Linked DNA regions of Homo sapiens. The protein of the gene in region 2 interacts with the protein of the main gene of each other region in a pairwise test. Each region holds a gene or a part of one and is shown on either strand. Other genes may lie near its edges.

What was found. The genes of interacting proteins can lie anywhere in the genome.
Region 1: the proteins of L3MBTL3 (region 2) and IL16 interact in binary tests that used the Homo sapiens proteins (3 or more experiments, as listed by UniProt).

Annotation. Positions count from the first base shown.
Region 1 is NC_000015.10:81,199,628-81,207,177, reverse strand, and holds part of IL16 (pro-interleukin-16), read right to left. Parts: exon of another isoform or gene 7,368-7,550; coding exon of another isoform or gene 7,316-7,367; intron 6,778-7,315; exon of another isoform or gene 6,708-6,777; intron 1-6,707. UniProt on the Homo sapiens protein: Interleukin-16 stimulates a migratory response in CD4+ lymphocytes, monocytes, and eosinophils. Primes CD4+ T-cells for IL-2 and IL-15 responsiveness. Also induces T-lymphocyte expression of interleukin 2 receptor. Ligand for CD4.
Region 2 is NC_000006.12:130,133,331-130,140,880, reverse strand, and holds part of L3MBTL3 (lethal(3)malignant brain tumor-like protein 3), read right to left. Parts: intron 7,430-7,550; coding exon 7,260-7,429; intron 7,039-7,259; coding exon 6,976-7,038; intron 1,272-6,975; coding exon 1,128-1,271; 3' UTR 1-1,127. UniProt on the Homo sapiens protein: Is a negative regulator of Notch target genes expression, required for RBPJ-mediated transcriptional repression. It recruits KDM1A to Notch-responsive elements and promotes KDM1A-mediated H3K4me demethylation.

The DNA.
Region 1 (7,550 bases), on a different chromosome or scaffold from region 2:
CAAGCTCTGCCTCCCAGGTTCACGCCATTCTCCTACCTCAGCCTCCCCAGGGGAGCTGGGACCACAGGCGCCCACCACCACGCCTGGCTAATTTTTTGTGGTTTTTTTAGTAGAGACGGGGTTTCACCGTGTTAGCCAGGATGGTCTTGATCTCCTGACCTCGTGATCCACCTGCCTCGGCCTCCCAAAGTGTTGGGATTACAGGCATGAGCCACCACACCTGGCCTGGATGTAAATTTCTTAGCATGGTTTGTTGGGTGGTTTTATTGCCACCATGTCATCGTCATCATCATCATCATCATCATCATCATTATTTAAAGCCCGAAATTCTCTTCTGAACATCCTTTTGGCCCCAACCCAGGAATTGTGAAATACAATATTCTAAATGTTATTTTAGGAATGGTCTGTAATTGCAGTTTTGATTCCCAATTTAAACTCAGTTCTTCAGGAGATTTTTGGTGTTATTGTTAATTTCATGTAGTTAAATTTCCCAGATTTAGTGTTGCTGTTCTTACAATTTTTTATTAGAAAATTCCAGTTTAATTGCATCGTGCCACAGGATGTGTCTTATTTTTATTTGTTGGAATTCATTGAGGTTTACTCTGTTAGCCAGTATGTGATGTGACTAAGTGTTTTATGTGTTCTGTGCACATTTGAAAAGAATGATTATTCTGTGTTTTGGGTTTCAAATATGTATATATTCAAATGTGATATTAAAATGCAGTCATTATGGTCAACAAAGAACTGCTTATATGATAGTGGTCCCATAAGATTAAAATACCATATTTTTACTGTACCTTTTGTTACAAATGTTCAGATACACAAATACTTACCACTGTGTTACAAATGCCTACAATAACATGCTGTACAGGCTTGTAGACTAGAAGCAGTAGGCAATACCATATAGCCTTGGGGTGTAGTAGGCTATACCATCCAGGTCTGTTTAAGTACCCTATGTAACGTTTGTACGACGATGAAATTTCTCAGAACTTATCTTCATTGCCATGCAACACATGACTGCATATATATGTAAGCACATATTCAATTTTGTAAGTCATAGAATTCAAGCTCTTTATGTACATTTTGTCTAATTAATCTGAAAAAATCTTAACAGTGGTGTACATTGAAATCTAACACCATATTTGGAGTATATCTCTAATTTTTTTGTTTTACATATTTCGACGCTTTATGTTTACCCAAAGTTTTCTGATTTTCATGCCTTCATTGAGTGCTCTTTTTATCATTTTGTAAAAAAGTAATTCTTGATCTATTTAATAGTTGCCTCAATTTTTATTTTGTCTGACAAAATTAACACTGACACCTCACTTTCTTTTAATTTGCATTTGCACAGTATTTTCCTATCCCTTTATTTGTAACTTTATGTGATTAAGTTTTAAATGTGTCTCTTGAAAGTGGGATATAATTGGACTGGGGAGAGAGAGTTTGTTTCTTTAGGCTTTTTTTGTTTCCCTTTTTTAAACTGAATCTGAGAGTCTCTTTTATTTTAATGTGTAATCTTACTACAGAGCTTAATTGATTCATCTTTCTTCTCACATGTTTTGTTTTTCTTATTATGGCTCCTTAATTATTCCTTTTCTTGTTTTCCAGTCAACTTATTCACACTTTCTTTTCCTTCTTAATGAATCATAGGTTTCATTCATTTTATTTGATATTACTGGTGGCTATGTAAAGAATTTTTCAAAGCAATATTTGAGCCTGTATTTTTCCTCTTCATTGATTGCAAGAATGGCACTATCTGATGCCTCTTCCCTATGCAAGAGGTGAGGTGCTAGGTGCTCTCAGAGTGATTGACTATTTAGGGGACATCATAGATCATTATATATCATCTCTCAAGATTTTTTTTTTTTTTTTGAGATGGAGTCTTGCTCTGTCATCTAGGCTGGAGTGCAATGGTGTGATCTCGGCTCACTGCAACCTCCGCCTCCCAGATTCAAGCCATTCTCCTGCCTTAGCCTCCCGAGTAGCTGGGATGACAGGCACGTGCCACTATGCCCGGCTAATTTTTGTATTTTTAGTACAGATGGGATTTCACCAGGTTGGCCAACTGGTCTTGAACTCCTGGCCTCAAATGATCCACCCACCTTGGCCCCCCAAGGTGCTGGGGTTACAAGTGTGAGCCACTGCGCCCGGTCTAAGATTTATCATTTGCTTTATTTCAAAATCGTATTAACAACCGTCACTGAGACTTAAAATTTGTCTTGTTTTGTGGCCTGTCAATTTTTTTATCATCATGGTCTGCTCCCCCAACCCCTCCAGGCTCTTGCTCTGCCCTATCTTGAACTCCATTCTATTACAGCACTAAACCTTTTCAGTCCCCTGAATGTCCCATGCGCTCTCTAGCTTCCAGGACTTGGTGCAGGCTGCTTCCAATGCCTTCCAAATTTTCTTTTTTTTCTTTTTTTTTTTTAATTTTGTTATTATTATACTTTAAGTTTTAGGGTACATGTGCACAACGTGCAGGTTTGTTACATACGTATACATGTGCCATGTTGATGTGCTGCACCCATTAACTCGTCATTTAGCATTCAATAAACGTAATCCAGCATATAAACAGAACCAAAGACAAAAACCACATGATTATCTCAATAGATGCAGAAAAGGCCTTTGAGAAAATTCAACAACCCATCATGCTAAAAACTCTCAATAAATTAGGTATTGATGGGACGTATTTCAAAATAATAAGAGCTATCTATGACAAACCCACAGCCAATATCATACTGAATGGGCAAAAACTGGAAGCATTCCCTTTGAAAACGGGCACAAGACAGGGAAGCCCTCTCTCACCACTCCTATTCAACATAGTGTTGGAAGTTCTGGCCAGGGCAATTAGGCAGGAGAAGGAAATAAAGGGTATTCAATTAGGAAAAGAGGAAGTCAAATTGTCCCTGTTTGCAGATGACATGATTGTATATCTAGAAAACCCCATCGTCTCAGCCCAAAATCTCCTTAAGCTGATAGGCAACTTCAGCAAAGTCTCAGGATACAAAATCAATGTATAAAAATCACAAGCTTTCTTATACACCAATAACAGACAAACAGAGAGCCAAATCATGAGTGAACTCCCATTCACAATTGCTTCAAAGAGAATAAAATACCTAGGAATCCAACTTACAAGGGATGTGAAGGACCTCTTCAAGGAGAACTACAAACCACTGCTCAAGGAAATAAAAGAGGATACAAACAAATGGAAGAACATTCCACGCTCATGGGTAGGAAGAATCAATATCGTGAAAATGGCCATACTGCCCAAGGTAATTTATAGATTCAATGTCATCCCCATCAAGCCACCAATGACTTTCTTCACAGAATTGGAAAAAACTACTTTAAAGTTCATATGGAACCAAAAAAGAGCCCGCATTGCCAAGTCAATCCTAAGCCAAAAGAACAAAGTTGGAGGCATCACGCTACCTGACTTCAAACTATACTACAAGGCTGCAGTAACCAAAACAGCATGGTACTGGTACCAAAACAGAGATATAGACCAATGGAATAGAACAGAGCCCTCAGAAATAATGCCGCATATCTACAACTATCTGATCTTTGACAAACCTGACAAAAACAAGCAATGGGGAAAGGATTCCCTATTTAATAAATGGTGCTGGGAAAACTGGCTAGCCATATGTAGAAAGCTGAAACTGGATCCCTTCCTTACACCTTATACAAAAATTAATTCAAGATGGATTAAAGACTTAAATGTTAGACCTAAAACCATAAAAACCCTGGAAGAAAACCTAGGCAATACCATTCAGGACATAGGCATGGGCAAGGACTTCATGTCTAAAACACCAAAAGCAATGGCAACAAAAGACAAAATTGACCAATGGGATCTAATTAAACTAAAGAGCTTCTGCACAGCAAAAGAAACTACCATCAGAGTGAACAGGCAACTGACAGAATGGGAGAAAATTTTTGCAACCTACTCATCTGACAAAGGGCTAATATCCAGAATCTACAATGAACTCAAACAAATTTACAAGAAAAAAACAACCCCATCAAAAAGTGGGTGAAGGATATGAACAGACACTTCTCAAAAGAAGACATTTACGCAGCCAACAGACACATGAAAAAGTGCTCATCATCACTGGCCATCAGAGAAATGCAAATCAAAACCACAATGAGATATCATCTCACACCAGTTAGAATGGTGATCATTAAAAAGTCAGGAAACAACAGGTGCTGGAGAGGATGTGGAGAAATAGGAACACTTTTACACTGTTGGTGGGACTGTAAACTAGTTCAACCATTGTGGAAGTCAGTGTGGCGATTCCTCAGGGATCTAGAACTAGGAATACCATTTGACCCAGCCATCCCATTACTGGGTATATACCCAAAAGATTATAAATCATGCTGCTATAAAGACACATGCACACGTATGTTTATTGGGGCACTATTCACAATAGCAAAGACTTGGAACCAACCTAAATGTCCAACAATGATAGACTGGATTAAGAAAATGTGGCACATATACACCATGGAATACTATGCAGCCATAAAAAATGATGAGTTCATGTCCTTTGTAGGGACATGGATGAAACTGGAAACCATCATTCTCAGCAAACTATTGCAAGGACAAAAAACCAAACACTGCATGTTCTCACTCATAGGTGGAATTGAACAATGAGAACACATGGACACAGGAAGGGGAACATCACACACTGGGGACTGTTGTGGGTGTAGGGAGGGGGGAGGGATAGCATTAGGAGATATGCCTTCCAAATTTTCTATAGTCCTTGATGATGCTAAATTTTCATCACTCTTCAAACCCTATTTTTGGATAACACTTCTTTAAAATGAAACCACAAACCAATACAGACCCCCAAAGCTGTCTGTGCTCTGAGAACAGGTTCTTCCACTACCAAAGCACTCATCTGATGCTACTCCAGTGGCTTGTGTCACCACTGGTCATGTCTACTGAACTCTAAGCTCCCTGAGGGCAGAGTCTGTCTGTCATATTTCGAGTTGATCCATGAGGCCTAGCTTGGCGAATGGCCTCTATCAATTGCTCAGTAAATATTTGTTGAATGACTAAGGATGATTGCATTTAATGTTTAAAGGTGTTCTCTGGCCAGATAAAATGTATAAAGTAGGAAAAGACATTTTACATACTGTACAACACCTTTGCTTGGGCTAATTCTTCTGGGGAACTAATAGTTCACTTAGTAACCCCATCTCTGGTTCAAATCTGATGAATTGCCTATGCTTACTTGCCTTATATTGTAAGTGATCATCAAGATACATGGAATACTGTTGAGATATGGAGAAGAATGAGGTTAAGTCTTTTTGTGCTACATAGAATTGGAAAACAAAACATGCTGCAGCACAGTGTGTGCGCGTGTGTGTGTCTGATGCTAGAATAAATCAGAGAGAATACTCAACAAGCTGTTATTGAAGAGCAGAGAATGGGTAAAAACTGATTACTCTACATTTTACTAATTACAGCATTTTTACCAAACACAAAATTTAATATTAAAGATTAAAATACAAAGTGGCAATATAATAAATTGCTAATAAATTTGTATACACCACTTAACTACAACCTAAAAAGAAAAAGAGGGAAAAACAAAAACCACAAACTTAAAACAAAGAAACCCAAAATATGATCTGCCTACTGGAAGAAATAGAAGTAGGAAAGTGGCTCAAAAAGTTGTTCGTGGATGAACAACTAAGATCTCCTTCCTGGAGAACTAAGGGCAGGGCCATTAAATTAGACATTTCGTGATCTCTAAATAGAACTGAGAGGAGATTCAAAGAAATGCAAAATAACAGCTATAGAGCATTATGGAGTCTTTGGCCTGAAAGAATTTTTCAGATTTTGATGGTCCAACTGCTGTCATTTACTTCTGTGTGTGTGTGTGTGGATGGGGGTGTGTGCGTGCATGTGTGTGGGTGTATGTGTGATTGCTTTGGCTTGAGTTTTGGTAAGAAATTACATATCATGTCTTTTAAGATTATTTTTAGATATATTTCTCTTTTTCACCACACATACACACACACACACACAGAGACACACACACACTTTTTATTTTCTGCTTCTGACAACTAGCTCAATGCAGGGGATGCATTGTCCTGCCACTGCTTCAGTAAATGTGACAGGTATCCTGTGTTCTCAGCAACTGCTGCAGGATTCTCTGGCATCTGCACTTTGGCTGGAGTTGGCTACAACCATCCTTGGAGGATGAGGAGAAGGAAGGAAGAGAGGGAAAGCGCATAAGACTGGGCCACCTGTCCACCTTCTCCAACCCTCACCATTGCTCGAGGCTCTCTTAATCCATTTATGAGGAGGTAAGTACAGAAAAAAAGACAGATGAGCTTATGGCTGACTCAGGCCTGAAATCCTTGCCTTGGATAATGGGAAGAAGGCCATCTTTTTGAAAGAGAAGATCAGGAATATTTCAGTTACAATACTCTCCTGACACATTTTCACCATTCCAAACTCCACCCAGTGTTCTACAGGACTATTTATGAAACTTTTAAAATCTTGACCTAGGCTAGGCATGGTGGCTCACGACTTTAATTCCAGCACTTTGGGAGGTTGAGGCGAGCAGATCACTCGAGCTCAAGAGTTTGAGACCAGCCTGGCCAACATGGCAAAACCCCATCTCTAATAAAAATACAAAAAATTATCCAGGTGTGGTGGCGTGTGCCTGTAGTCCCAGCTACTCGGGAGGCTGAAGGGGGAGAATCACCTGAGCTCACGGAGTCAAGGCTGCAGTGAGCCGGGATTGCACTGCTGAACTCCAGCCTGGGCAACAGAGTGAGACCCTGTTTCAAAAAATAAATAGATAAATAAATAAAAATAATTTTTAAAGAATTTTAAAAATTAAAAAAATCTTGACTTACCATAATAATTTACATTTTACATCATAGTACATGGATCACATACACATAAGATTTATATGTATACATAAATAAATAAATATATATAACTAAAAACTTTCATGAAACAATACCTTTACTACGGTATAATAAAAATAATATAAAATATCTTTGGTATGAAAAAGATAATATAAAATATGATTTTGCTAAGAACCTGATGCAATCTGATGTATGCTATTCTTTTTTTGTTTTAGAAAAAGGAAGTTGGTTCCAACCCGCTAAGTTGATTTTCAATCCACTAGTGGGTCATGCTTGAAAACCACTACTTTCAGGTTTTCTCTGATTTTTTACAGCAATTCCATATGGGGTATTTGCTTTGATTCCTCATTTAGCTCCCTTCTTTGGGCCACTGAATCTTGTCATATGTGCATTGATTTTGCCGCATTTGCTCAGCCCTACTCAAGAGGTCTGTGCTTACTCAGATTCGGGAGCTGGGATGAGTTCTGAAATTCCTCGTTGGAATCTTTCATATGCCGATGCCAGACTGCAGAAAGGGCTTAGATTTCCTGTGGCTTTTCTTTGCCAGGTGAGAGGTGCAGTGAGCAGCAGGGAAGGTGCACCATTCCCCAGCATCCAAGTTCTCAGGGGAGCCTTGAACCTTTGGAAGGGATGTTTGTAGGTGACCGCCTCCTATTGGCTGAGCAAGGTAGCCA
Region 2 (7,550 bases):
ACCTCCCTGATCTGTGAGCATTTCAAATTTTGTGTCAACTGAAGTTGCTCCTTCACACCTTGTCTTTTCAGCAAAATCACAATACTCGCTCTCTAGCCAACCCTGAAAAAAACCTTTGGGTTTGGAGGACAATGCATGACCTGAGACAGCGCTCTGTACAGATTAGTGTTTCTGTTGACAGAATGAGCTCTTAGTCTCTGTAAACCACCACAATTTCATCAATGAAAATTAGAAGCTCAAGATCATCTCATAAATAGTTCAAGACCCTCACAAACATTCCCCCCAACCATAACTGCATACAACTGCGTACTCCTCTGACACCATCTGGCTCTTGTAAACACCGGGGCACCAAGATGAGTGAGACTGATGCCACTCAAAATACACTACCTAATTTATTTATGTTTATATATTTTATTTTTCAATTTCATTCTTTTATATACATGTTTTTGGTAATTATAGTAAAGATGCTGGTGAAAAGTAATTTGTTTAACATTTCATAATGCGTGCAAAAGGAAAAATACTGATTCAAAGAAAAGTCATTCTTACAACTATTCAGCCCTGACAATTATGACAAGCAGTTAGGCAATATCATGACTTGCAAAGTTATACTTAGCATAATGTTGCAATTCAAAATATGGCACAAAATTAACAATACAGATAACAGTCCTACTGGCTAAACTTAGCCAGGTTTCGACTAATTTGGTTTAAATTGAAATTTGATTATATAAAAAGGTTTCTGAAAGTATTGAAAAAGAAACAGTGTACATGAAAGAGAATTCAACAATGTTTACAAAATGCCAAAAGTTCTTACTCTGCCCCCCATTACCATAAATAATTAATGAAGCCCCCCTTCCCCCCACCCCCCAGACTCAAAAAGATTTACAAAGATAAATTTAGCTCAGTGAACAGAACCAAAAGATGACTGTTGTTAGACAGTACCTGGTTAAAAGCTCAAGCACTTTCATAAGAATTCATATATATTGTCTCTTGAGTAATATAAATAATCCGATAGTGTTGCTCTTTTGAGTTTTGGAGACTTCTCACTTAGGAGTTATAACCGTCCTTGTGCTTTGAATAAAACATGAGCTTTAAAGCAGAATGCTGATGGTATTCAGAATTCACCATCTTCAAAGTTCATTGTGAGAATTCTTCTCTGCAGCTTTGAACATCAGGATGGAATTGAAAATTTTGAGAGCAGGGCCCAGTTTAATGCTCATAATTTTAACAATGTCTGTTTGAGTCATAAGTAGAAATGCTTCTCCATCAATTTGCTAAAATGGGGGAAAAAAACAACAGAATGTGGATTAACAAGATGCAGTGTTGTAGAAAATATTCAAGGTTAAATTACCAGCTGTCTTCTACATAGCAATGCTAAAAAAGCACAGAGAAGTTCACGTGTGCAATGACATTTCTTGATATATGGACCTTTCTTATCCACAATGACACATCCCAAAGTGGACTGGGAACAAAGTAAACTAATTCACCTGAAAAACCAGCCAAAGGAAAACAGAAGGTGCCCATATCTTCCTGTGATTACTCTGAATTAGTTGTAGAGTTAAGAAGAATATGGAAAAATCCAGGATGCCCAAAGTCTAGTTTTTATCATGGCAGGTTTTAAAATTAGAAGAGATAACAGGTACATGAATGTTTGTGGACATAAAATAACTCAGGCAAACATATCAGCTACATGCAACATTTTTTTTTTTTCCAGAATTAGCCTTCCACCATGAAGAAAAGAAAATCAGAAAGATAACACTTATCTCTAGTGTGGCCACAGTTAAGTCTTTACACACAGAAGAAAAGCATTTACTAACGGGGCAATCAAACAGTGAATGTGAGGCTGGTGTTACGAGTCACTGACTTTAAGGTGGTTCTTCTAATACGCAGGTAGGGTAACTATGAGAAAGACCCTTCCTCTCTCTGGACATCTTCTAAGACAAAAGTCTATGCTTCTGAAAAATAGGCTACTATTCTCTAGAAGTTCAAAGGTACAACACATCTTTTAGGTTAAAAGATAAAATACTATGAAAATGATGTCTGGCTTACTGGGCAGAGCAAAGAAACAGTCTTTCATTATGACTTTCAGCTCTTCTATCACCTTAAAAAAAAAAAGTTTCCCTTTCAGTTTTCCCACCTTGTACAAAAAGTAAAACACACTTTTGTTCTCTGCCTTAGAACATCAGAAACCTTGACAGCAACGCACTCCGTTATGGGTTGAATGGTGTCCCTGTCACAAAAATTCGTATATTGATGTCCTGACTCCCAGTACCTCAGAATGTGACTTTTATTTGGAAATAGGGTCAGTGCAGAGGTAACTGGTTAAGATGAGGTCACACTGGAGTAGGGTGGGTGCCTAATCCAATTATGACTGGTATCCTCATAAAAAGGAGAGATCTGGAGAAAGAGACACATATAGAGGGAAGGCAACGTAAAGACCCAAAGAGAGACCACCATCTACAAGTCACATCTACAAGTCAAGGAGAGAGGCCCAGGACAGATTCTTTCCTCACAGCCCTCGGGAGGAAGCAACCCTGCCAACCCCCTGACTTCTAGCCTTCTTCAGATTCTCAGCTTCTAGAACTGTGAGACGATGCATTTCTGCCATTTAAGCCACCCGTTTGTGGTTGGCATTGTTATGGTGGCCCTAGCAAACTAAGACAACTCTAAATTCTGCAAACAGTTCTCTAAACAAGGCTGATATAATTAAATTGCTACTTCTTAAGATTTTCCTCTCTCCTTTAAAAATGAAAGACCTGTAAATATAGACTGCCTAAATGCTTCATCAGTAAGAACTGGAGTCATCTTACACAACTTCTTCAAGTAACAATTATGTGGAAAAAGTGTGCTAATTTCAGTAAAAAGACATCCTGCTGTTGTAAACTAGAAGGAAAGACGTTCCAGTGTTAATCTCCAAGTGTAGCACCGTTAAGCGGCAGGTATGAGAAATGTTCTCCTGTTTTCTGGAAACATTGGTCTGTTCTCATTTGCTTGTGCTATGACAGTCCTCTGATAAAGCAAGGTCAGGAAGAAAGGCAGATCTATTAACACTTCGCTCAACCAAGGCAGACCTTAGTACAATGGACAGCCTTATAGAAGTCTTCTAAGTCATTAATGAAAATGTCAACTGACATTCCCAAGGAGCCCACTACAAAGGCTGACTGGTTTATTACAACCTTGGCCCTACTGAAGGCCTGGCGCAGACAGCAAGTCTCCTTCTGAAACTATGTAAGAGTATAACACAACAGGTAACTGATGAAAAAAAAAAACATCCAGAGAACTTAGTGGCTGGGATTTGAAGTTAAAAGTGGGACAGTAAGGATACATTTTGGTAGGTTGTTATTTATAAGGTTACATACACTAGAAAGAAAAAAAATCTTGAGGCTACTTCCAAACTCTTTATTACATACAGGTTGCTCTGACATGTGGCCATACAAACAAGTCTTGATTGGAAGGAAGTCAACTTAATTCAGGAAAGTACATCCTAAGAACAACAGTGACCACTGCAATGTATTACAAGGCTTACTTTTTTTTCGGTTAGCTTCTGCAATGCATATACAATGCCATTATTCCAGACATTAGGTGTCTTGCTAATGGCCTAAAACAAAGGAGAGGGATTTGGAATTCAGGAGCTCTGGCCTTCCATTTCACTGCCCTTTCCACTATTCACTATTTGTTCTTTTCCAATGCCTTAACTCGAAACCACAGTGACATGCTCTGTCTGAGTGAGTCTTTCTCAGAGTGTAAAGGCATGAATGTATTCACTCAACAAAAATATACTGAATGTCTATTATATTCCAAACACTCTTCTTGGGCTTAGACATATAGCAGGGAATAAAACAAATAAAACCAAGCAAGCAAAAAACTTTTTGTGGAATTTACATTCTAGAAGTGGTAGACAGACCATAAGCCAATAAACATACTAAGTAAGCCAATTAATTAGTAAGTTAGAAAGTGACTCATGTTGGCCAGGAGCAGCGGCTCATGAGTGTAATTGCAGCACTTTGGGAGGCTGAAGTCAGTGGATCACTTGAGGTCAGGAGTTCAAGACCAGTGTGGCCAATATGGTGAAACCACATCTCTACTAAAAATACAAAAATTAGCCGGGTGTGGTGGCACGCACCTGCAGTCCCAGCTACTTGGGAGGCTGAAGCATGAGAATAGCTTGAACCTGGGAGGCAGAGGTTGCAGTGAGCTAATATTGTGCCACTACACTCCAGCCTGGGCGACAGAGTGAGGCTCTGTCTCAAAAAAAAAAGGTGATTTGTGCTATGATTAAACAGAGCTGACTAGGAAGATGAATGGGCAGCAGGAGCAGGGATGCATGTGTGGTGACAAGAGGCAATTTCAAGTAAGAAAGTCAGGGCAGGACTAATTGGCAAGCTGGCATCTGAGCAGAAGAAGTGAGCCACATGAACATCTGGAGGAAGAGTGTTCTGTGCAGAAGGAGGAGCGGGAGCAAGCCTGGACAATCAGAGGAAGAGCAAGGAGGCCAGCACGTAGACTCGTGAGGGGCAGTGTAAACAAAAAGCCAGGGGGCAAGAGAGGTAATGAGGTGTCAGACTGCAGGCCCTTGTAAGGACTTCTGCTTTTACTCTGATTGAGAGATGAAGCTATTGGAAGGACCTGAACAGAGGAGTGACATGGTTTGACTTATGTTTCAGCAGGGTAACCTTGGCTGTGCTGGGAATAGACTGTAGAGGAGCAAAAACAGAAGCAGGAAAATGAGTTTGGAGGTTACTGCACTAATCCAAGTGGGAGAGGATGGTGGCGCAGACCAGGGTGGTGGTGGCAGTAGGGTGATAAGGGTTTTACATGTTTCAAAGATACACCCAATAGGATTTTCAACAGATGAGATGTGGCATGTGTAAGAGAGAAGTCAAGGATAATTTCCAACAACAGCCTATCTGAATACTTGTCCTTTGCCTTTTAAAGATGATTTATAAGACTTCGGTTAGATTTGTACTATGGTTTACTTGTAGGACTCAAAACCCAAACCCACTGACCTTGTGAGACACTTGAGAACAAGGACTAGGTTTCATTATTTTCGAATCATCCTTCTCACAAGAGCATGACACAAAGTAACATACTCATGGTCGGAATTTAACAAATGTGCACAAGATGAATGAATGAAGGAGTAAATGAATGAATAATTCATATCGACAGAGAATATTAACTATCTCACTCCTCCAGAAAAGGATCTAGCTTTGAGCATATTTGGTAACTGAGGAACATCTCCAAAGACAATCTGCCATGAATAAAAAAAATTACTCAAAAAATAGCATCTCATTTTGAATTTAAACTTGAATCTTACTCAAACTGAATAATAGAGCAAACCTATAGGGATTATCTAGATAACAACAGAATAAAAAAACAGAAGTTATAAAAGAGATGCATTATAAATTTATTTTCAAAAATGCTTTATTATTTTCAAAGGTAATGACAACATGACATTTTCCAAGACAGACCAACAGCTCCCTATGTGGCTCTAAGTCTGCTCAGCGATACAGAATGAATTCAGGCTGGGCACGGTGGCTCACGTCTGTAATCTCAGCACTTTGGGAGGCCGAGGTGGGCAGATCACCTGAGGTCAGGAGTTCGAGACCAGCCTGGCCAACACGGTGAAACCAAGTCTCTACTAAAAATACAAAAAAAATTAGCCGAGCGTGGTGGCGGGCACCTGTAATCCCAGCTACTCAGGTGGCTGAGGCAGGAGAATCGCCTCTGCCAGGAGGCGGAGGTTGCAGTGAGCACTCTAGCCCAGGAGAGAAGAGCAAGACTCCATCTCGATTTAAAAAAAAAAAAAAAAAAAAGGAAAAAACAGAAAATGAATTGAGAGTATCAGTGAAGACACTCAGGACTTAGGGAAAGAAAATCTGAATAACTGCCAATTAAAGATCAAACAGAGAGAAAATAAAACCTTTGCACAATAAGAACATAAATCAGAAAAAGGATGTTGGAAATCAGATCCTTGTGCATTTTAACAAGCTTTCATCTAACGCATAAATTATACCTAACAGTATAACAACACTGACAACTGGTGGCTGGATTGTTAGCTGTGTCTATACTCCTGCAATGAAATGGAAAGTGTGCTGTTCTTAACAGTTGAGCTTTACACATAGGGGCAAACAAGTTGTGTATGCGTGTAACTGTAGACAGCAGATGTTGGAGAGCACCTTCTGAGATTACTCAGTCTACTTTCTGCCTTCTGGCAGGAGTAGACACAGCCAAAATCAGAGGGGTAATTGACTGCTTTGCTTGGAGGAGATGACAGGCAAGTGGCTTATTTTTAAAGGTCTCTACTGAAAAGGGTCTCCTGCTGTACGCTTACAGAATTAAAAGTTAGAAACCAGATTCCTTTTTATTCTAGTGCTCACTGTAAGTGATATCATTCTTAATCACCCCTTATATTGAAGTTTTGGAGAGGGAGTTGAAAACAACTAATAAAATAATCTTCCAAAAGTGGACTGTGATAAATATCTTATTATAAACATTATTGAGGAATGTATATGACTTAAGGGATTTTTTTAGACATAATGCTAATATTACTTATTATAAACCTCAAATGGAGTCAATCATGGTGTTGTTAGAATGACACTGGAAAATAAAATAATGGAAACTAATTTCACTTTATTAAAAAGAGAAAATGTTGCTTCTTTCTTTCTTTGGCTTCCTCTGTGCTATAAACTATATAAATGCATGCTATTAAGTTCTGTGGGTTTTCTTTTTATAAGGAGCCTAGTGTTACTGCTGTGGGGTATCATAAAATGGTACTCACAAACATTCTTATGCATCTCATCTTATACAAAGACATTTTTATACAACTGATTCATACTGCCTGTTAGTATACATCAATTTGTCAATTTCAACACACCCCATCTCTTTTTGACTCTGCCAATTCCACACATTTCACCTTCCACTGCATTTCAGTGCTTTGATCCCATTAAGTAACATATTGCAATTTAGTGGAATACTTACTTCATCTTTAAATACCTTTCCATGTTCTTCACACCCAGGTAAGCTCTGTATAAATTCTGACACCTGTCAAAAGCAATATCAAAATTCCCAGTTAAAAAACACAGTCAGAATCTAAATGCTACAGGTTCAAAACATTTAACCCATATGCATTAGTTATTTCTCTCACAATAATTTCTTCTCTTTCAGAAAAAAAAAGACTAAACGCTACCTACGCTCAATGTTCCACACCTCTTAAGCCAGTAATCCTGTATCTGGTGTCGGGCAGCAAAGAAAATAAAATATACCTCGTCTGTGCTCCATTTGGAAACTTTACTGGCAGGGATTCCTGCGACAGTTGGAAGAAGTTTGCTTTGCTGCTCCCAGCGCAAGGGCAGACATGGAATTGGGGACTTAAAGGACAGAAAGACAGCTGACCGACGCTGTGCCTGCTGGACGGTGGGTTCTTCCCGGGCACCTGGTCAATGAAAACAAATGGGAAATCACTCTCTGAAAGCAGCAAGAAAGCCCCAAATGCCGTGCATCTCCCAGATAACGAGACTGGAGGTGGGAGTGGTTAAAGCATTGGTTCCTTTCAG